5 linked regions of the Homo sapiens genome follow. The protein of the gene in region 4 purifies or fractionates together with the protein of the main gene of each other region. This does not show direct contact. Each region holds a gene or a part of one and is shown on either strand. Other genes may lie near its edges.

Region 1 (4,526 bases), on a different chromosome or scaffold from region 4:
ATTATTTAGTGCTTTTCTGACCCTGTAGGGACGGTGAGAATAATTGAAACACTAGTTTCTTAAAATTTCTGTTAAAATTGGTTAAAGGCCATAGAATTTTTTTTTTAAGCTAAGCATGTTATAGAGAGGTATCCTATAAGAAGCAAGGGGCAGGTAAAGACTTTAGAGATGTATAGTCCAGTGTGTTAATTAAAGGATACTACCTACTTCTAATTCGGTATGTATTAATCTTTTCTGATATATCTGTTAAAGTACTCTTCGCATATTTTTAAAAAATTGGCATTTTAAAGTATAGTCTTTGATGGTAGAAATGTGAGATTGACAAAAATCATGTCCTCTTATGTATGAATTTAGTCTTACACAGTTCTTCATATGATGGAATCTAAAACAAATGTAGTCTTGAAAACTTTTAGTCTACTTTGGTTACATGTGTTTATTATTGCTCACCTTATAGATTAACAGCAGAAAAGTATAAATTTTAATATTTCTACCTTTCTGGCTTGAGGTCTACAGCATTAATTTCTGACCAGTTAATGCAAACTGAGATTCCTATTGTCCTAAGAAAATCTGGGAAGTTAGTAACACAAACACATCTTTTGATTTATTTCAGGACCACATAAACCCATTTTGAATTATTCAACCATTGCTGAACTTCTTGAGTATGTATAATTAAGAGTTGACTATAATTGGAATGTTCTTAAGACTTTAAGTTGATTATAAAATTTTGTGCTTAAAGTTGGCAATAATCAAAACAAAACAAACAAACAAAAAAAACCCTTTATTTTAAAACACAGTCTTGCTCTGTCACCCAGGCTGGAATGCAGTGATGACATCATACTTCATTAGACCGTCAATATTCCAGGCTCAAGCAATCCTCCCACCTCAACCTCCCGAGTAGTTGGGACTACAAGCGCATGCCACCATGCTTGGCTAATTTTTTTTTAGTAGAGACAGTGTCTGTCCATGTTGCCCAGGCTGATCTCAAACTTCTGGACTCAAGTGATCCTCCTGCCTCAGCTTCCCAAAATACTGGCATTATAGGCATAAGCCACCATCCCTGGCCAAAAAATAATTCTGAAACAGCAAGGAGGAAGGCGGTTTCTTCTTGGGAAGTCTTGATTTTAGTTGAGCATGTAGAGGGATCACTTGACTTATTAACCACTTAGGATTGCACAGTAAGATAATTTAAAGGGTAGCCAGCACTGGAGTGGGCCTGGGAAGGGGATGGGCAGTTTGTGTTAGTGTGTGTGGGTCCAAGATAAAAATGTTGGGTAGCAGAGTTTTGCCTAATGCATTGTCGCTAAAAGGGATGAAGGGCATCGGGATCTACAGGAGATGGAAAAAGTAGTGACAGGATAGTAGTGGGAAAAACTAGGATCGGATCAAGGCACTGGAAGGCAGAAATATTGAGTAGAATGTTTGCTGCAATTTATGTTTCTGTATAAATACCGAGTACAAAGTTTCACTTGGGTGGTCAAGGTGCTATGGCTGTGACAACTCCTGAGAGTGGGTTTTCTGGTTAAAAAAAAAAAAAAATCTCTGAATGCACGGAGTCGTCTCAGGCCTTCTCAAATTTGCAAAGAACAGGTCCACAAGACCTACATTTCCCAAGATAATTGCAGTAGTGTGACCTGATAATTAACATTTTTTGCTTTCCTGCTGGAACATTCCTGGGGCCCAGAGACTGGGCCAAGCATTTCCAGTCCAAAGACTGGGAACTGAACCAAGCATTTCCTTTAGATTGTTCAAGTTGTGAAGGTTGATGTTATTAGCTTGGTTACTACTTGGAGTCTTAGCTCATAGTGTGTCTTTATGGCTTTCTGCCTCACTGGACCCTCTTCCCAAAAGGCTTTAGAATGTGTTCACCATCATGAGCTGACCAACAATTTCTAAATTCCTACTCAGAAACACAGCAAGGGGAATGCAGTCAAGCACAAAGGGCTTAAATGACCAGATAAGGCTGGGCTGGATGAATAAAGAGGAATATCCTATGAATGTGACTGTGTAGTTTTAGAGTATCCCGATTCAACTGTTATATTTGACTTGTGGCCTTGTAGACAGTGTGTTAATGTCAGATCTTCTTTTTCAGAACTGTTTTAATCATGGACAAACAAAGTAAGTAATTTATTTTAAATGTTTACTTTCCTCCTTATAATGTTAATCTGTTGGTAACTTGTTATTTGTCATAATGTTTTATTCAGTGTCTGAAAGTGTATAATTTGTTTTCTGTTGTTTATGCTCCAGAATACAATGTCTAGTTCAGTATTTTGACTATAGAGAAGATGTACAAAAATAGCACTATCACTAGGTTCTTCATTAAAAATACGAAAGCCTTTTGGAAAGCTAAGAAATGCTAGATTTATTGGGAAATATGTTCTGTAACATATATTTAAACCACAACAATATTCTCTTTGTGTATTTTATATGTATAAAGATTATTCAAGTCATACTAATTAACAGATAATAAGATTTGAGTTCATTGTAATAAACTCCTCAGATACACACCTCAATGTATATTTCATCACAGACACATGTTTGTATTTTAAGTAAATACCAGTCATTATGTTCTGGCTTTTTTTCTCTCAAGAAAATTCTAAGTAAGATGGATATTTATCAAGCAAGTAATAAAAGACTGTCTTATTAAGATATCAAGGTTCTGAAGAACAGAGGGAAAATTATGTTCAAAATTCCCACTACATAGGGAAAATTAAATTCAAAAATTAAATCCTGTTTTTCTGAAACGCTTTTCTTTATTCTCTCTTTCATCTTTGTTGAGGTAACAAAAAAATATTTATCTGTCACTACAGTGTCACCCTTATTAGATATATGAAATAATCTCCAGGACTAGACTCCTTGCTTTTCCCATGTGAAGTTTTATGATTTTCTTTTTACTTACAAAACTCAAAGCTTTTTAAATGTAAATTTATATAGAATTATACTGGTTTATTTGCCACAGACTTTAAGTTGATTCCACTCAATTTACAAAAATGTATCTGGTGATGGTCATAGGCAACTTTTAACTCTTCAGTTTTGTATATATAATTGTATGTATGTATGAATGTATTTGCATAAATAGAAATAAAATGTGTATATGTGTGTGAATAAATGTGTAAATATGTATATATACATACATGTAGACATAAAAAAAAGTACCTTTAAGACAATGTGATAGACTTGTACTTCTTATAAGCCATTTTAAGTTGCATTTCAAAAACGCAGTAATCAAACCATAATTAACATGCTCTTTGTTCTGCTTGAACACCTGCCCATTCACTCATTCTCCTTGTATGAATTCCCCCTGGAATGCCTGAAATCAGAATCATTGCTTTGGTACCAAAAGCCCAGAGATTGTGAGCTCATGATTTCTTGAGTCTGTCTGTTCCTGTATATGTGTGTGTGTGTGTGTTCTATGTTATAGTATTCAAACAATGTTGCTTATTAAGAGGTATCACAATGTGACATACCTGTCAAGGGTAGATCTTTACTTCAGACTTGCAAAATATTTTCTTGAAATCTATTCTGAGTCTGATGCTGTGTTTCCAACTTAATTTGGGAGTAGGGGCTGCAGGCAGGGCCTTATTAGCTAGAGAACTAGGGAGTTAGGTCAGTCACTTGATGCTGAGAAATAGAAGAGAATGGATGGGAAAGAATGATGGGGAGTTTCAGAGATTTGTGATGATTCACAAATCACAAGGTATGTTGCAATGTTTGTCCAGGGAAAAGTCCTCATTTGTTTTTTGTTGTTGTTTTGTGTTATTTATTTATTTATTTATTTATTTGAGATGGAGTCTCGCTCTGTCGCCCAGGCTGGAGTGCAGTGGCACGATCTCGGCTCACTGCAACCTCCGCCTCCCGGGTTTAAGTGATTCTCCTGCCTCAGCCTCCTGAGTTGCTGGGACTACAGGCGCGTGCCACCATGCCTGGCTAATTTTTGTATTTTTAGTAGAGATGGGGTTTCATTTTGTTGGCCAGGCTAGTCTTGAACGAGTAGGAGAGCGGTTTTTTTGCCTGATTTTACACAATCACCATGGACTGGATTCCGCTGAAGTCATCATGAAGCTATTTATGAAGGAGAAAGGCCGGGGCAGGGGGTGGGGGAAACAATCCAATCTTCCTGATAAAACCACACGATTCACAAGTTGAGTGGTCTTTGAAAGTTCATAATAGAGACACATACAGAAAAATGTGTTACAGTGAAAGTTTGACCTATATGTTCTTCTATATTGATGCCATGTCTCCATGATTCTAAAACAAAAGACTTTGAATTTACAGTTAGTAATTCATAAGGAAACAGATAAGGAGATAAGTGTAGTGTCTACTGCACCTTAAGCTGTATGAAAGCAGAGCCATTGTAGCCACAGAGCCTAATTCAAGGGTGACACAGGACATGCTCAGTAAATATTTAGAGACTGGCTGCGGTAGGTAACCGAATGACTAGATAGACATGAATATTAATATTTAGGAGGTTGAACCATTTGTGCATATATTAAGTTTACTCAAGCCTTATTAGCAAATAACAAAGTTTA
Region 2 (4,526 bases), on a different chromosome or scaffold from region 4:
TGCACTCCAGCCTGGGAGACACAGTGAGACCTTGTCTCAAAAAAAAAAAAAAAAAGGGATCTTGAATAACTGGGGGACATTCACACAGCAGAAAGAAAGAGCCTGTCCAGGACATCTAATCCTGAGAAAACAACTGCCCTGGCTGCTGCAGGGGTAGGAAGGCAGGACCCTGGGGGCCCTGAGTCAAATTCCTCAAGATAAACTCCATTGTCTTCTTCCAGGGCACAGACCCTAGAACTCACTCAACACCAGAACACACAGTACTGCCCCCTTACCCTGCTCCCATCTGACAGCAGGCAGGAGGGCCCTTCCTCAGGAGCACAGCAGCTCCCAGGTCAACCTAGCTACTCTAGGTTTCCACCATAATTGTATGTGGCTCAGCTCTCAGCGCTGCTGATCTGAGCCAGGTCTCTAAGCTGTGCTGTCAAGTCCACCCTTCTCCAAAGCTGCCTTCCTTGACCGCTCTCCCCCGACCCTCAGTAAAATAAGGACTGGCTGGGGAGAGGTGAACTCAGGGCTCTATCACGTCCAGAGAAACAATGTTTGCTTCAACTTGCTTCCAGCTGGATAAGAAAGACCAAGACAGGATCCTAGGAACCCACAGCGTGGGTCAGGGCCTCCCACATTAACCGCACCCACTACTTACTATGAACCAACCAGCACTGTGCTAGCCCTTCGTAAGTACTACTGTCTCATTTGACATGAGACCTGTAACAACCCTATGAGGTAAGAATGATGATCCCCCTTTTACAGAAGGGGAAACTGAGGCACGGGGTGTGAAATAATTTGCTCAAGGACACCTGGCTGAGCTGGGATTTGCAGCAGGCAGTGAGACTCTACTCTGTTCCTCACCATCATGCTACACTGCCTTCTGAAGTTCTGTCAGGATTATGGTTCTCTACAGTCCTGGGATGGCATTTCCCAAACTGAGTTCCTTGTCTTCCCACAACTGAATGTCCAATCAGGATGGAGGGACAAGAAGGAACCCACACCCACTCCCTCAGCAGTCCTGCCGGGCATCTGCTAGCTCCCCGGGGTCCCGCGGACACACCTTCACTCCCTGCTCTTGTCACAAGTCAGTACCCACAGTTCTGAGACTCTGCCCCTGTGGCTGGGTGTTCCCCACTAGAGTCCCAGAAGTCCACCCCCACTCCCCCACCAGCCCAGCCCTGTCCCCTGGCCGCACCGAAGTTGTTGGTGGGGTAGCGCTTGCGGAGCCGCTCCGTGAGCCGAGACACCTTGCTGCGCAGCACCTCATTCTTGCTCAGGAACCCGTTGTCCTGCAGGGCCAGCTCATCCTCTGCTGGGCACGGGGCGCCCTCATCATCCTCCTGTGGGAACAGCTCCTTCCAGTCCTGCCCACCTCTTGCAAGGCTGCAGGACCCGTGTGCAGAGGCATCCTGCGCGGCAGCCCCCACGAGGTGTGGCAGCAGCCGGTTCAGCCACCCTCCCCAGCCCAGCCCCTGCCCACCCACCAAGGCTTCCACTTACCAGCACCACCAAGTGGGTCTCCTGCCTCCCAAGGTGCGGGGAAGAGGAGAGAAAACAGAAAGAAAAAGATAGCAAGAAGAAAGAAGCTACCTGGAGGGGCCCCCAAGCAGAAGGAAGCATGGAAGCGCTGCTCTGAGCTCTGCGCACTTCCCAAATGGTGACATTGACAGACGCCCCCCACAAGAGGATCCCAGCATCAAACAGCCTTGGAGAAAGCTAGGTACTACAGTTTCTCAAACTGGGTGAAAATAATTTAGTAGGTCTTTATTTGAATAGAACAGAAAAGGAAAGAAAATATCCCTTACAACGTATTTTCCGGAAACTTTTGTTTCACTTAAGTTTTACATATTTTATAGACCTAAGTGTGACCTGGGTCAAGATGCAAAATGTGTTCCTTACTATGGGTCATGAACAAAAATGCTTGAAAACCCCTGCTCTACATATTCCCTCCACCAAGATTCACGGTCTACAATCATATATCAAAGTTTTGGAGCAATCTTTTAGCCATCAGAAAGTCAAATGCCTGCATGGCCTGGGCTGATGTATGATTGAGGTGAGTTGGGGTAAATCACAGGCCTGGTGGAAATCCACGAGGTGTTTTTCTTATATCTCAATTTCCCACTTTACAAAGAGAAATAAATAAAGAGAAATGATATCCTACTCTAAGAAAAACAAAAACGCAAATGTGACAAATGGCAACTCCCACTTGACCTCAGTGACAAAATACAGCAGGGGGTGTTGAGGACCACCTGTAGCCACAGCATGTGACCTGCGTAAAGGGGACAGCAGCTCCTTAGCTACACCTACTGCTGCAGACTCAGGACTACCAGAGAAACTGGAAACCTGCAGTTCTAATAAAAATCTCTCCATATTTAAACATTGGCTCAAAAAATTATTTTGAAACTTTGCATGCCAAATAAAACACTTCTGCAAACTACCAATTTGAATTACCATCCTAAAATCAAGAAAGCTGTTTAACTTCCTCTGACCTAGCACTTGGCCATGCAACTACTTTCTCCAACCTCCCCTCCCAGCCCCGCAAAGGGACATCTTACGGAACTCACTCTGCAGAAGAGCGGAGACCCAGGGCAGTAGCCTCCTCAAAAGCTGCCTTTCCTATATCAAAGGCACCAAGCCCACGGTCTCCAGCAAAGGCCAGAAATCGTCCAGCTCCCCTAGCAGGGCATTACCCGGAGACTTCCAGAGCCACTCTTGCCCTGGGCACCCAGGACAGCTGGCTCAACCAGAAACAGGAGTGGGGAGGGGTTCAGTGGCACTCTTTCAACCAGTGAGTTCTAGCTCACAGCAAGTTTTAGCTTCTCACTTGGACATTAAAAAACAAAAACAAAAAACAGCTCCAGGACCACCCAATTTCTGGCCTGCTGAGTAGAGGATGCTGGGGAAGGGCCACCCACCTCAATCGCATCTTTAAACTCTTCATCTGGCTCAGCCTCCTCAGCCTCCTCCACGCTGCCCGGTGTGAGGTCCTGGGAAGAGAGACTCTATGACAGAAGGAGAAGGATGGCAGCGCTGCTCCCTAAGGCAGAGGACCACCTCCCCAAGCCAGCATCCAGGCTACCCAAAACACCACGAAATGGCACAATGGCAAGAAAGAAGGAACTCACAGGAAGGAGCAACCTCTAGCCTGGCAGGGCGGGGGAGATGGAAACACGAGCACAGCTGGCCCTACAGTGGCCACATCGCACAGTGGTTGAAGGCACGAGCTCTAGAACCACAGGGCTGGGGTCTTAGACCCAGCCCTGCCACTTACCAGCCACTCTGTGCCTCAGCCTTCTCTTCCACAAATGAGAATGATCTCTTTCTCAGAAATAACCAGCCTGGTGCAGTGGCTCACGCCTGTAATCCCAGCACTTTGGGAGGCCGAGGCAGGCACATCACTTGAGCCCAGGAGTTTGAGACCAGCCTGGGCAACATGGCAAAACCTCATCTTTACTAAAAATACAAAAAAATTAGCTGGGCGTGGTGGCACCTGCCTGCAGTCCCAGCTACCCAAGAGGCTGAGGTGGGAGGACTGCCTGAGCCCAGGAGATGGAGGTTGTAGTGAGCTGTGATTGCCCCACTGCCCTCTAGCCTGGGTGACAGAGGGAGGCCTTATCTCAAAAAAAAAGGAAAAAAAAAAAAGAAAAGGAAAGAAAGAACCTGCACTCCATGATGTGAATATCTATCTATAAAGCACTTGGAGCAGCATCTGACACAGGGTAAGCACTCAGTGAAGCATGGAGTAGCTGTTTTTATTACAATTATTATTATTGAACACTTCAGGGGAGTTAAGGCCTGGGAAATAGCAGGAACTACAACAGAGGCCAGCCCAGGAGCCAAAAACAAGCTGATAACAGGGGGGCCCACAAGCGGCCACAGCAGGCTCTGCCCTGACAGTGGCACTTACCTCCGTGGGTGTGAGGGCAGGCGTGCTGTCCATCAGACCATCCTTCCCCCCAACATCTGGTGGTGGAGGACTCTCAAAGGCATGCTCTTCCTGCTTTGGGTTCATCCTCTGCTGCAGAGATGCCCTGTACTCAGACACAACTACCCAGGGAATGGAGAACAAGGTAGGAGGCAAAAATGAGACACCGTGAGTGGCACTTTAGGGGTACCCACTTCTGCAGCTGGCTGGCCTCTCTTCCCTTCACTACAGGAAAGAGTCACCCTCCTAACTCTGAGCGAGTCACCTAACTTAAGCCTCTTAAACAAAACTTAGATACCACCACCTGCCCCAGACAGCTACAGAGATTAAATGTAGTAAATGCTCAATAAATCATGGCTTCTGTAATAAATAACTCTACCACAGGGAGGAAAACAAATACAGCAATCACCCAAACATATGTACAGACTCGGGCCTCTGCGACTCAGTGCCTCTCCAGACTGCCTCAGCGCTTTAGAAGCCAGACAACAGAGGGGTATTCTGGGATCACACAGAGATGTGGTAGCAACTCCAGGTGGCTGCACCCCAGGGGATGGGTGGCAGCTTTGGGAAAAACATCCTTCCCTCATCTTCCAGAAGCCATCATATCATA
Region 3 (4,526 bases), on a different chromosome or scaffold from region 4:
AGTTTAGACTTATATCTGGACAATCTAGGCAAGGAACTATCATTTATTGATCCCTTACCATGTCAAAGGTCTTCACATTCTAACTCATCTCATCTCTATAACAACTCTAGGTATTATGACTTGTGTTTTATAGTTTAGGAAACTGAGGTTCGGAGTAGTTAAGTAACTTATCCAAGGTCAAACAGCTTCTAGATGGCAAAACCTGGACAGGAGTTTATGACTGCCCAAATCCAAAGCTCTTAACTCTCTTTATTCTCTATCACACTATTTTCTAACTAAAATGTTAGTTTTTTCTCTCCAGAATCCAAACTGGCTGACTAGACTTGTTATTTTATTTTTAATCCAGTTCTTTGGATGGTTTATGGTTTCACTACTAACATACCATTCTGTATGTAAATGCCAGCTTCAGATTTCTTTTAGCTCCGTTACTGGTGATTCATGGTGATTGAATGGAGCTTTCCTTAGGGAATTGAGATTTTATTCTTTGGGCATAAAATTTCTCTTCCTTTTAAACTCTCATCTCTGAAAGTGAAAATTTTAGAAAGTAAATCCTCTTATTTGCCAGTAGCATTTGTTTTCAGTTATCTGGTCTATCTTCTAGAATTACTGTTAGTCAAGAAAGCTTTTTTTTTTTTTTTTTTTTTTTTTCAAATTTCCTCCTTCAAGATGCATGTTATATCTTCTGAATGGTGACTTACCCTTTCATTTTCATGAAACTTAACATCTGTCATAGTAATAATTCATTGCCTGTCGATATATCTATTTGGCCACTGAAAGGAAGGAGAAATGAAAAAGAAACTGACTCATAGGCTGAACCAAGAATAGAAGCACCGTTTAATATTCCAGTCATGCTTCATTGACCTAGTGCTGAACAGAAGTGTGGCTCAATCAAAAGGTCAAACAGAGGGTAGTTTATATTTTTAATCAAAGCTGAAAATACGGGTACATTTTACTTTGTAGAATAAACAGATGGCTGAAATATTATTTGAAAATATAAATGTAATTACATGTTTCAGTTGACTTATACTTTAAGGGCTGATTGGTCTTCAGTTTTTATTGACTTCCAGTTGGCAGGGACACCTAATGCTTTAAGAAAGCCCTGAGCCCTCTGTCAATTCATTTTAGTCAACAAATCTTTATTGAGCATCTGCTATGTGTGAGGCACTATTCTAAGTCCTGGAAAGAGAGCAGTGGTTACAGACAAAAATACCTACTCTCATAGGGTTTATATCTAATAGAGAATATAGATTATAAAATAAATAAATAAAAGACAAGGTGCCAAGCATGGTGGCTCATGCCTGTAATCCCACTACTTTGGGAGGCCAAGGCGGTCTGATCATTTGAGCCTAAGAGTTCGAGACCAGCCTGGGCAACATGGCAAAAACCCATCTCTACAAAAATTAGCGAGGAGTGCTGGCATGCACCTGTAGTCCCAACTACTCATGGAGGCTAAGGTGGGAGGATCATTTGGGCCTGGGAGGTAGAGGCTGTGGTGAGCTGAGATCATGCCACTGCACTCCAGTCTGGGGGACAGAGTAAGACCCTGTTTCAAAAAAAAAAAAAAGGCATATTAGACAGTGATAAGTGTTAAGGAGAAAAAGCAAGGAAGGAGGCTATGAGATATCAAGGAAAAGGTGAAGTTTAAAACAAGGTTTCCATCCAGGGAAGAGATCACTGAGGAGTTGACTTTTGGGTATAGACATGAAAGAAGTAAGAAAGCCAATTATGCAGGCATCTATAGAGGGGGAAAACGTTCTGGGTAAAGGGAATGGTAATTGCAAAGGCCTGGAGGCATGAGTGTGTTGAGGAAGAACTAAGAGGCTGGTTTGGCTAGAGAAGAGTAAATGAGAGTAGCAGGAGATGAGGTCAGAGAAGTGGGGAAGGAGACGGCAGATCATTTAGATTCTTCTGAGCTATTTGTAAAATATTGGGGTTTTACTGTGTGTGAAGTGGGAAGCAATTGTGCAGGGTTCTGAGCAGAGAGCTTCGATGTGATCTGGCTTACATTTAAATAGGACCATTTTGGCTGCTGCATTGAGAATAGACATGTGGTGTTAAGGGCAGAAGCAAAGAAACCAGTTAGGAGGTTTCAGTGATCTGACAAGACAGTAGTATCTTGGATCAAGATGATAGCACTGTATATTCTGGATATATTGTGAAGAAAGAGCTCATAGTCTTTGGAGTGAGAGAAAGGGAAGAGATGACTCCAAGGGTTTGGGCCTGAATAATCAGAAGAATGGAGTTGTCATGAATAAGACAAGGATACAAAAGGAGGGGCTGTTTGGGGGCCATATCAAGAACTCGCTTTTGTTCATAAGAGCAAGAATATAATACTGGTTGAGTATCCCTAATCTGAAATGCTTGGGACCAGAAGTGTTTCAGTTTGAAGATTTTTTTTTGGATTTTGGAATTAGTGGCTGAACCTCCCAAATCTGGAAATCTGAAATCTGAAATGCTTTAATGAGCATTTCCTTTGAATGTCATGTCAGTACTCAAAAAGCTTTGGATTTTGGAACATATTGGATTTTGGATTTTCAGATCTGAGATGCTCAACCTATAGTGGCTACCAGGGGCTGAGGGGTGGGGAAGATGAGGAGCTCTTGTTTAATGGGTATAAAGTTTCAGTTACATGGGATAAATCAGTTCTAGAGATCTGCTGTACAATGTAATGCCTATAGTTGATGATATTGTATTGTGCACTTCAAAATTTGTTAAGAGAGTAGATTTCATATTAAGTTTTCTTAATACGCACACAAAACAAACAAAAGGACACAAGGAAAGTATGGGAGGTGTTGGACATGTCTCCCTCCTTGGTTGTTGTGATTGTATCATGGGTATTTGCATACATCCAAACCCAGCACATTAATTATGTGATGGGTTATTACATATTTATTGCACATTTAATTCATCACATTAAATATGTACAATTCTTTGTATATCAGTTATACTTTGATACAGCTGTAGGAGGAAAAGGTACTCCGTTTTGGGCACTCTGAGTGCGAGATACCTTCAGGTATTCAATTGACCTTCAAGTAAGTACAGTCTAGAGCTCATTGGATGCTTATCATATGGCAGGAGGCACTTTTCTAGTGTTTTTTTTTTCACATGTAATTTCATGTAATCCTCAGCATCGTCAGAAATAGGTACTATTATTATCCTTCTTAGAGGAGGAAACAGGCCCAGAGAGGTTAAACTACTATTGCATTTTTACACAGCTAAGAAGAGGTGGGGCTCGGGTTTGAACCTGAGCTGTCTGACACCAGAGCACACATGGACTGCTTCTGTTGCAAACCTGTTGATGTGTTGGGTGAGCTCCTATTGAATGCTCTTGAATGAAGTTTATCTTTTAAAAGTTCACATGTTCATTTACCAGGATTTTATAGAGGGTGTGTTTCTAGCTCTGGCAGTCACACGCCCATGAATATCAGAGGCTCACCACCTCCAGGTGTACCTTTGTGGCTATAGGAAGGGTGGGGTTATTGCAAGTACTCCATTGGGCCGAGGGTGCTCTGCCCCCTTGTACAGTCTTGTTCTATACTGATCCATCTTGAGCTCTTCCTATTATCCTTATGCAAGCAGACATTTTCCATAAGGCACCAGGTTAGAGCTGGGAAAAATGGATCACCCAAAAACTGTGTTAACTCTGTTGAGCAACAGATTTTGTCCCCTGCATCTCAGTGAGTAGCGGAGATAAGAGGGTAGGGGATAGAGTCTTGCATCTCTGGGCGTATGGAGACATTGCTGCCAGACAGGCTGTTGGATTGGATGTGGTGCATGAGCCTGAGGAGAGCCCATCTCCTGTCTCAATGCCAGCTGTCCCTAGGGGTGGGAAGGAGGTGCCCAGGCCGACTACACCCTCCAGAGCTCCGCTCCTTGAGCAGAGGTGGCAGACCCACACATCCATCATCCAGCCCTAGTCTGTTCAGGAGCTCCTTCTCTGCAGCCAGCTTGGCTCCCAGGAAGGAAGACCAGCAGAACACTTAAACTTAATAACCCAGTAATGCAGTAAGTCCTACTTTGGGACAAGAGGAGGGACTTTGCTCTAACTCAGAACGTATACCTCCTTGAACGTGCCAAAATTCCTTTTTCCTTTATGACTGTTTAGTAAGTTAAAGTCCTTCATCTTTGCAGGTTCTTGCATTTGTCCCTATACCGACTTTATCACAGCTTGGTAAATGTGCCTTCCCTCTATGTTTGTGAGATGGCAGCACTGGTTTCAGGAAATCTGCTTGCTGTTATCTTAGTGTTTATAACTAAGGGATCCAAGTCAACTTTGTTGATTAAATGGACCAGGATGCATGGTTAAATAGGAACCCCATAATGAAATATCTACGGTTGATGTTTCTGAAAGATTGGGCATCCACTATGTTCTCGGGACACGCAGAAACACAGGGAAAAGAAAGCCAAGTTTGTGAACCATAAAAAACTTTTATTCTCATTCTTGGATATCTCCATTGTATCTAGAGCCATAGTATCCATCATAGAACCAGATATAACTCCTTCATAGACATGAGGTGTTTGGGGTG
Region 4 (4,526 bases):
TTTCCTCTTAGGACTATCCTGCGTATCTATACTACATTCCCCGCCCCCCCACCTTTTTTTTTTCCTTTCACTGATCACAGCTCAAAGTCTGCCTTAGGCATTCTCCTGCATACTTAGGTGTGTATATCCTTTCCCCCTCTTTGTAGGGGACTCTGGATAGTACTTTGGGCTGCAAAACTAGTTTTCCATTCCCTTCTGGTAGCATGCTGCATCCTGCCTCCCTTCACTCAGCCACAGAAGTCAGCATGTGACCCAGGCCTAGATATGCATTTCCCTGGGCACAGACATTGGTCCAGAGGTGGGCAGGTGACCCAAACTGAGATCCTTCCCCAGGGTTTCTTGATTTGGAGCTGAGGGAGAATAGCCTTGCCTATGGGTTCCAGAGTTGGGAAGATATGAAGTTAGGGCTGAGGCATCTAAAGCCCCTGGCATACGTGGAGAAAGTCCATAAGTAAAAGTGAAGAATACAACAAAGCAAAAATAAATGGAGATGAGACTTGGGTGAGAGAAAGAGGCTGGCACAAGAGAATCTTGGTTCTGGTTGCTCGGGCCCCAGTTCCTGCAGCTGCTTTTTTGATGCCATGAACTGTCCGATATCCTAGAATGAAAACTTTAAATGCTGCTTATAATCCATTAAATATTTGTTGTTCGGATGGACTGGGGTATGCTGCAGGAACAACTCCCAAATCCCAGTGGCTCAAGAAAACAAAGGTTTATTTCTTGCTTTCTGCTGCCTGTTACTGTGGGTTGGCAGGGGTACTCTGCTCATCGCATTCACTGAGAGTCCCAGGCTGACTGGATTTCCTTTGTCTTATCGTTATAAGACATCAGGATTCTGGCTGGGCACGGTGGCTGACCGTGTAATCCCAGCACTTTGGGAGGCAGAGGTGGACAGATCACTTGAGCCCAGGAATTTGAGACCAGCCTGGGCAACATGGCAAAACCCCATCTCTACAAAAAAAATACAAAAATTAGCTGGGCATGGTGGTGTGCACCTGTGGTCCCAGCTACTTGGAGGATGAGGTGGGAGGATCACTTGAGCCTGGGAGCTGGAGGTTGCAGTGAGCCGAGATCATGCCACTGCACTGAGCCTGAGCAACAGAGTGAGACCCTGTCTTAACACACACACACACACACACACACACACACACACACACACACACACACCAGGATTCACTGTGGTAGGGAGAGTCACATACTAGCTCATAAGTACCTGCACCTGGAGATGATAACATGCCATTTCTGCTCACATGTCATTGGCCAAACCTGAATTCAAGTGGTTACACTCCTCACTAAAGAACAGCCCTAATGACCAGCATATATGTTGAATGAATGACTCCTAACCAGCTTTGCAAACCTAGAAATGTCCTTGGCATAATATGGTATTGTGCAACTGGGAGAATCCTGACATACTCCTTCAATCTCTACACTAGAAATATCTTTCTCACTTCCCTTTTAGTCCCTTTATTCTGTTCGTGAGTCAAGAAAGGAGGTCTTAAGTCTGAGGAGAAATTAGCAATTACAAAGAACCGATGCCATTCCATAGCTAAAGCCTTGGAAGGTGCCCTCTGGCTTTCACTACACTCTCCATACATGTCTCTACCTTTCTCCATGAAGCCTCTCCTAGGTCCCCTAACCAAGAAAGATTTCTGTCCTCTGGGTCTCCAGAGTGGCATTGTCACTTTGTTCCTGGTGCTATAGTGGTCTGTGCGTTGATATCCCCTTACAGACCACATCTGCTTCGTCTCCCTTATAGTTTCTCATATGCAGTAGGTGCCCAGCGAGTGCGTGTTGGGTGGTGAATGAGTCAGGACCTCACTCCTCAGAGTGTGGTCTGTGCACCAGCAGCATTGGCATTACTGGAATAGTTAGGAATGCAGAGTCCCAGGCCTGGTGAATCTGCATTTTAACAAGATCCCCATAAAGCCTGAGAAGGGCTGAGTCAGGAGACAGGGTGCCATCATGTCCCCTGTGAATTGAAAAGAGATGGACTTGCCTGAGGTTTTCATTATTGTCTGTGGACCTTGGACCTGGGATTCAATTGCAAGCCACCATTTGTGCTAGACTGTCATTCATGCTTTCTGGTTCTGAGAGGTTCTGACCCCAAGTTTTTATGATGAGTTCTAAATAGCATATCTAGACTCTGTCAACCCAGTGCCCAGCCAAGAACCTTTTGATATGGACAGGAGGCAGGGAAACACTGGATAGAAGAGGGCAGTTCCCTGGCAAAGGCCCCACCCTCAAGCCTGGAAACTGCGGCCCTAAATGAGAACAGTTATCCCTGTTTTCCTGCCCAAATATTGCTTTTTCCAAAACCACTCTGGCTCGCCACACCCCGCATCCTGTATCCATAAAAACCCCAAACTCCACTGGCAGAGAAGCAGAGTGGCATGGCAGAGGAGAGAAGAGAAGCATCTGAACGTTGAGAGGAGTTTGGCCAGGGATGGCCGCACTCCAGGGGAAGATTATCTTCCCACTGTATCCCCTTTCCAGCTCCCCATCTCACTGAGAACCACCTCCATCACTCAATAAAATCTCTGCATTCACCATCCTTCAAGTCTGTGTGACCTGATTCTTCCAGGATGCCGGGTTCTTCCTGGAACCCGGGTACCAAGAGGGCAGGGTATAAAAGACTGTCACCCTGACTCTCCACTGAGCTGGTTAACAGCCATCTGCAGACGGCAACTGCTAAAACAGCATTAATTGTAACACACCCCTAGACGCTGCCACGGGACCAGAGCCCAAAAGTGCTCACCCCAGCCCTGGCACCTGCTCACCTGCATGCTTCCCCTCCTGCAAGGGGTTTGAGCACTGCAGGCCGAGTAAGCAAGCCACACCCCTGTCACAAGTCCCACAGAGGGGTCAAGGCAGCCCTCCTGTCTCACTTTCTTTTTTTTCTTTTTTAAGATGGATTCTTACTCTGTCGCCAGGCTGGAGTGCAGTGGCACCATCTTGGCTCACTGCAGTCTCCACCTCCTGGGTTCAAGCAATTCCCCTGCCTCAGCCTCCCGAGTAGCCGGGACTACAGGTGCCCGCCACCACGCCCAGCTAATTTTTTGTATTTTAGTAGAGACGGGGTTTCACCATGTTGGCCAGGATGGTCTCGATCTCCTGACCTCGTGATTCCTCACCTTGGCCTCCCAAAGTGCTGGAATTACAGGCATGAGCCACTGGGCCTGGCCTCCTTTCTTACTTTCACAGATTGGCTGCCTAATTGTGATCAGTGTAAAATTTAGTCTTGTCACAACTAGGGCTTAGACTGCCAAAGCTATGCCTGTGAGACAGAATATTGGGCTGAGTGGGTCACGCTGCTCAGAGGAGAGGGAATACAACCCACCTTGAGAAAGAGGCTAGTGAGCCTGGCCAGCTGATGCTGGAGATTCACGTTGGATTTCCAAGAACATGCAAGGACTTTTTCTCATGAGCACCTGAAGCTGAGAACCACGAGTCCACACGTGCCCCTCCTGAGGGAGTTGCAGGATCCAGCAGGATCTGTGCACACTTCAGGCTGCGTGTTGTGGAATCCAGGCTCTCAGCAAGTTCTCCTAGCTCTGCCTTCAAAATACTCGCCTGTCTACCCATGACTCCCACCTCCACCACTGCCACCCTGCTCCAACCAAATACTGTTGCTCTCCTGGACCATTGAAAACCCTCCTGACTGTTTTCTCTGCTTCTATTCCTGTCCCTCCGGTGATCTCATTAAAATGTAAGATAGGGCCAGGCACGGTGGCTCATGCCTGTAATCCCAGCACTTTGGGAGGCCGAGGCGGGCAGATCATGAGATCAGGAGATCCAGACCATCCTGGCTAACACGGTGAAATCCCGTCTGCACTAAAAATACAAAAAATTAGCCGGATGTGGAGGCGGGTGCCTGTAGTCCCAGCTACTCAGGAGGCTGAGGCAGGAGAATGGCGTGAACCTGGGAGGCAGAGCTTGCAGTGAGCCGAGATCACGCCACTGTACTCCAGCCTGGGCGGCAGAGCGAGGCCCCATCTCCAAAAAAAAAAAAAAAAGTAAGATAGACCATCTTTCCCCTGCTGTTTAAAAACTGCTCCATCTCACTAAGAGTAAAACTCAAAGTCCTTACCATTGTCAACAACACTCACCAAGGTCTGGCTCCTGCCCACGCTCTGACCTTACCTTGCAGTGGCCTCCCCTCTCTCACTCAGCTGCAGCCTCCTCACTATTCTTAGAAGGTGGCAAGCTTGTCCCATCCAGCACCCTTTGCACATACATATATTAATAATATATATTATTTCTATAATAGAGCTACCAGTTAGAGACCTTAGAATAAGTCTTTTTTAAAATGAAAAAACAAATAAAGCAAAGAAGTGAAAATATAAGAAAACAGCATATCCTGGGGGAGGGAAATAAGCCCATGTGGAAAAGAAGCACTTCTGGAAGTAAAAAATAAAGTGTTGACATTAAAAATCCAATGACTAGGTTAAAACAGTGAAGGATTGAATGCCAAGAAGGTAGTGTTTTTCACACTGCATCTTAGAGCTAGAAGGAGTCTTGGTGATGTC
Region 5 (4,178 bases), on a different chromosome or scaffold from region 4:
TTGTGTGCTTTTGTTACTGCAATTTCCAGGATCATTGTATATTCTCAGTATGCCAGTGACTATATATGTAAAGGTAATTTAAAAAGTATTACTCCCAGAGTAAAAACAGACAAACAAATAAGAAATCTCATTTTTAATGGGAAGTTGTGCATAAAACTATTGTAGTATTTTTATAGAAATGTCCCTTAATCATTATAAGTTCATCATTATAAAATGTATACTATTGTACTAAAGCAAAACTGTCTGCCTTTAAATCTAAGTGGTGTCAACTTACTGTATAATTCTGGTTACAAAGTTAGATATGAAATCTTTGGCTATTAATTAGAAAAGCATTATTTGAAAAGACCTGTCAATAAACATTTCTAAATGTGGTTGCTCATCTTAATAGTTTTCTTAATTAGAACAGCTAGGAAATGAACAGAACAGTGGTGCTTTTATGTTATAATAACAAAGAAGTATTACAGTATCCCAATCTCCAGACCTGGGGTCCAAGTATTCAATCCTGGCTCAGTTGCAGGCTGACAGAAGAGAAGCATCGTCCTACGCTCGTACACAATGGAGCAATGATAACATCTGTCACACTCTTCCATATTGTCTGCACTGAAGGCAGAACCATTAGGCAGGTCTTTACAAAAGGCATTAAAATCCTGGAAGGAAGGAAGAGAGATGTGTGAGGATTGTTGCTGTTACCAAATAAGGTCTGTCTTGTACATGTATGAAAAGATAAAATACTGACCCATTTACTTAAATTTGGTTGAGAGTTTGAAACAAATAAATGAACAATGATCACTGATAATGATTTGGGTTTTTTGTCCCCCTGACTCTCATTTTGAAATGTAGTCCCCAGTGTTGGAGGTGGGGCCGAGTGGGGATAATTGGATCACAGCGGGTAGATCCCTCATGAATGTCTTAGTGCCTGCCACCCTCTTGGTAACGTGAGTTCTCACTCAGTTAGTTTGCTTGAGATCTGATTAACTAAAAGAGTCTGGGACCTCCACATTCTCTCTCTTGCTCCCTTTCTTGCCATGTGACGTGCCTGCTCCTCCTTCTCCTTCCACTATAAGTGGAAGCTTCCTGAGGTCCTTGCCTAAAGTAGATGCTGGCACTGTGCTTCCTGTACAGCCCGCAGAACTGTGAGCAAAAATAAACCTCTTTTCTTTATAAATAACCTAGTCTCAGGTATTCCTTCATAGTAATGCAAATGGACTAAAGTGATAAGATGCACAAAAAATATGTTGCCTAAAAATATAGTCATGTAGATAATAAACACTAATATTCTTTCTACTGGTGGCATGCTATCTGAAACAGTAAAACAAAAATAAATAAAACCATGTCTTTATCTACCTGGTCTCTGCCAGTTAACATTAACCTGCTTAAGTCTTCACACTTCCCTGAGGGTTTACTTCCTGATAGCCTTTCCTGCTGCCTCAGTCTTCTTCCCTTTTCCTGGACCAGGCTAGATCGGATATTCCCTCATTGTATTTCTAAAGTACTGAAACAAACTTCTTAATTTTCACATGTATCAAAAGGTATTATAAATAGATGCTGTATTTCTGTCTTTCCTACTAGCGTTTAAGTTTTTTTAAACAGTGAGGACATCCTTGACCCTTAGTAAATGGTTGAGCTAACATAAATTTATCATTCTTTTATGCCTTATGTTATTAACTATGTTTTATATTTTTTAATTTTTTCACAGTAATCACACACACTGAAAAGGGCTGTATGGTATAGTTGAAAGAACCCTGCAAATGATGTTAGAACTTTTACACAAGAAAACTAGTCTATCCTGAAATTGTTATTTTTCATACACTTGTTCCTAACATAGCTGCATATCCTTATAGTCCTCAGGATGGTTAATTTTATATGTAATTTTCTAAATAATGTTCTCTGTTGTAGTAATGTCCTCTGAGCACAAAAGTAGTTGTGAGATTTTCAGGCACTGCTGGTAGCCTCAATGGAAGCTTTATTATTACCTGGGTGGGCATAAGGGAGTAGGCTGATTTTCTTGGTTTGCTATTAAAATATGACTTAAATGAGGGTCTGCTGTACTTAGCCCAAAATGAAGGAAATATTAGGCAGCTTTCTGATTGATTGATATATTTTTAGAATATAGAATTATTCACATTGACTGTCTCCACAAATTGTGTTTTATTTCAAGTGCTAAATACATGAAACACTTTTATATAATAAGAAAATTAATTACTAAGTGTTTCAGAGATAAATAGCTGAATAGAAACCTCAATGATGGCAACTTTAGACTTATTATTCTATTATATTTCTCACTTGATATGTGGTCTTGGGCATGTTGCTACAAATTAAAGTGACACCAGGAGATCTCTCAGAACTGGCTATGAGGATTGACATTTATTATGTACCCCTGAAATGCCTGTATGATGCTGTCATTATAATGTATAATAAATAGACCTATTTTGAAGGCAGAATATATAATGAAAATAACTATAACAAGATGACCTCAAATTGGCCTATTAAAAGGCTGAAGTTTAGATCAGAAAGTTTCCTAACCAAATCCACTTCACTTAGAATTCCTTCCTTCTTTCTTTCTTTCTCTTTCTTTCTTTTTCTTTCTCTTTCTTTCTTTCTTTCCTTTCTTTTCTTTTTTCTTTCTTCTTTTCTTTCTTTCTTTCCTTCTTTCTCTTTTTCTTTCTGTCTTCCTCCCTCCCTCCCTCCCTCCCTTCCTTCCTTCCTCCCTCCCTCCCTCCCTCCCTCCCTCTCTTTCTTTCTCTCTTTCTTCTCCCCTCCCCTCCTCTTCCCTTCCCTTCCTTCTTTCTTTTCAGGTTCTCACTCTATTGCCCAGGCTGGAGAGCAGTGAAGTGATCTCGGCTCACTGCAACCTTCGCCTCCCGGGTTCGAGTGATTCTCCTGCCTCAGCCTCCCTGAGTAGCTGGGATCATGGGCACTTGCTACTATGCTTGGCTAATTTTTGTATTTTTAGTAGAGACAGAGTTTCACCATGTTGGCCAGGCTGTTCTTGAACTCCTGACCTCAAGTGATCTGCCCAGCTTGGCCTCCCAAAGTGCTGGGATTACAGGCGAGAGCCACTGCTCCCAGCCAGAATACAATGTACTTTCTATTCTTCCTTAGGCTAACAAATTTTCTATCTCCGTGACTCCTTAGATCTCCATGTCCTAAAAGGGAATTTAGCACATGTCAAAAGTGAATCTTCTTGTTCAGCAAAGCAGTTACCCACATTCGAGGAGTTCAGTTTATAGGGTGTTGTTAACTCATTTGGATTTTATTTTTGTTTACTTGTGTTCCCTCATTTTGGAGCAGAGAATCTAATGATCCTCCGACATCAAACTTAAGTTGGGTTCTCAACATCACAAATAGTTTAGCTTCTGAAACTCCAGGCAGTTCTGATTGACCCAAAATTTGGTTGAGGCTGAATGTGGCCAATACTTCTTAAGTAAATCTTATAATATATATATATTATATATATTAATATATGTAAGGTTATATATTCCTTGGATAATATATATCCTTGGATAATAAGGCCATAGGATAGAGACTTTTATTTAGTGTTGTAGTAATTGTAGAGTCATGCAGACTGCATTCATAGCAATTTACTGTATGAAAACTGTCTTCTAGAAATGAGATTGCTACTATCGCATTTCCATCAGTTGGGCATTTGTTTGCTTTGCATTCCAGCAAAAATAAGGGATATGGGTGCTCCAGCCACATTTCTTTGGTTATGATCCACTTATGACCAATAACCTGTGCTTAACAAACAGCAGCTATCTCTGTCTGACTGTAGTATGGAATCCAACTAATTCACTGATTCCTAATGGCCCGTACTTCTGGTCTAGGATCCAACACCACCAGACTTCTGTGTTTTATTGTTGTTGATTGTTTGTTTAAAGGATCTAAAATCTGACCTGTTTTAATATTGTGACATGGTTCAAAGTTCCACTACTGCATATTTTCCTAGCTTTGGTCACCACTAACTTTTTGGTAAAAACAATACACAAGCCCCTGCTTTAAAAAATATATATAAAAAGAAAACAAAACAAAAAAAGCTTGCCCAAATGGGTTTGCAATTCTGTAAGGTCTGTCCTTGATCTGGTCTTATCATGTCATGGGAATGCAATCTATTAATGATAAACCTATTTTATCAAGGCATAGCTAACTTTTAAGCATTCTTGTTTGAAATTACTCCTCTA

The links.
Region 1: the proteins of REEP1 (region 4) and PLSCR1 purify together in Homo sapiens (affinity purification with mass spectrometry; 2 studies listed by BioGRID and IntAct, with this or other methods). This does not show direct contact.
Region 2: the proteins of REEP1 (region 4) and ZFYVE27 purify together in Homo sapiens (co-immunoprecipitation; one study listed by IntAct). This does not show direct contact.
Region 3: the proteins of REEP1 (region 4) and ENDOD1 purify together in Homo sapiens (affinity purification with mass spectrometry; one large-scale study listed by BioGRID and IntAct). This does not show direct contact.
Region 5: the proteins of REEP1 (region 4) and CAV2 purify together in Homo sapiens (affinity purification with mass spectrometry; one large-scale study listed by BioGRID and IntAct). This does not show direct contact.

The regions. Positions count from the first base shown.
Region 1 is NC_000003.12:146,534,129-146,538,654, reverse strand, and holds part of PLSCR1 (phospholipid scramblase 1), read left to right. Parts: intron 1-610; exon of another isoform or gene 611-659; intron 660-2,089; coding exon of another isoform or gene 2,090-2,102; coding exon 2,103-2,115; intron 2,116-4,526. UniProt on the Homo sapiens protein: Catalyzes calcium-induced ATP-independent rapid bidirectional and non-specific movement of phospholipids (lipid scrambling or lipid flip-flop) between the inner and outer leaflet of the plasma membrane resulting in collapse of the phospholipid asymmetry which leads to phosphatidylserine externalization on the cell surface.
Region 2 is NC_000010.11:97,749,843-97,754,368, reverse strand, and holds part of ZFYVE27 (protrudin), read right to left. Parts: intron 4,039-4,526; coding exon 3,899-4,038; intron 2,994-3,898; coding exon of another isoform or gene 2,979-2,993; coding exon 2,907-2,978; intron 1,513-2,906; coding exon 1,492-1,512; intron 1,332-1,491; coding exon 1,187-1,331; intron 1-1,186. UniProt on the Homo sapiens protein: Key regulator of RAB11-dependent vesicular trafficking during neurite extension through polarized membrane transport. Promotes axonal elongation and contributes to the establishment of neuronal cell polarity.
Region 3 is NC_000011.10:95,095,605-95,100,130, forward strand, and holds part of ENDOD1 (endonuclease domain-containing 1 protein precursor), read left to right. Parts: intron 1-4,526. UniProt on the Homo sapiens protein: May act as a DNase and a RNase. Plays a role in the modulation of innate immune signaling through the cGAS-STING pathway by interacting with RNF26.
Region 4 is NC_000002.12:86,327,056-86,331,581, reverse strand, and holds part of REEP1 (receptor expression-enhancing protein 1), read left to right. Parts: intron 1-4,526.
Region 5 is NC_000007.14:116,502,440-116,506,617, reverse strand, and holds part of CAV2 (caveolin-2), read right to left. Parts: intron 648-4,178; coding exon 497-647; coding exon of another isoform or gene 459-496; 3' UTR 1-458. UniProt on the Homo sapiens protein: May act as a scaffolding protein within caveolar membranes. Interacts directly with G-protein alpha subunits and can functionally regulate their activity.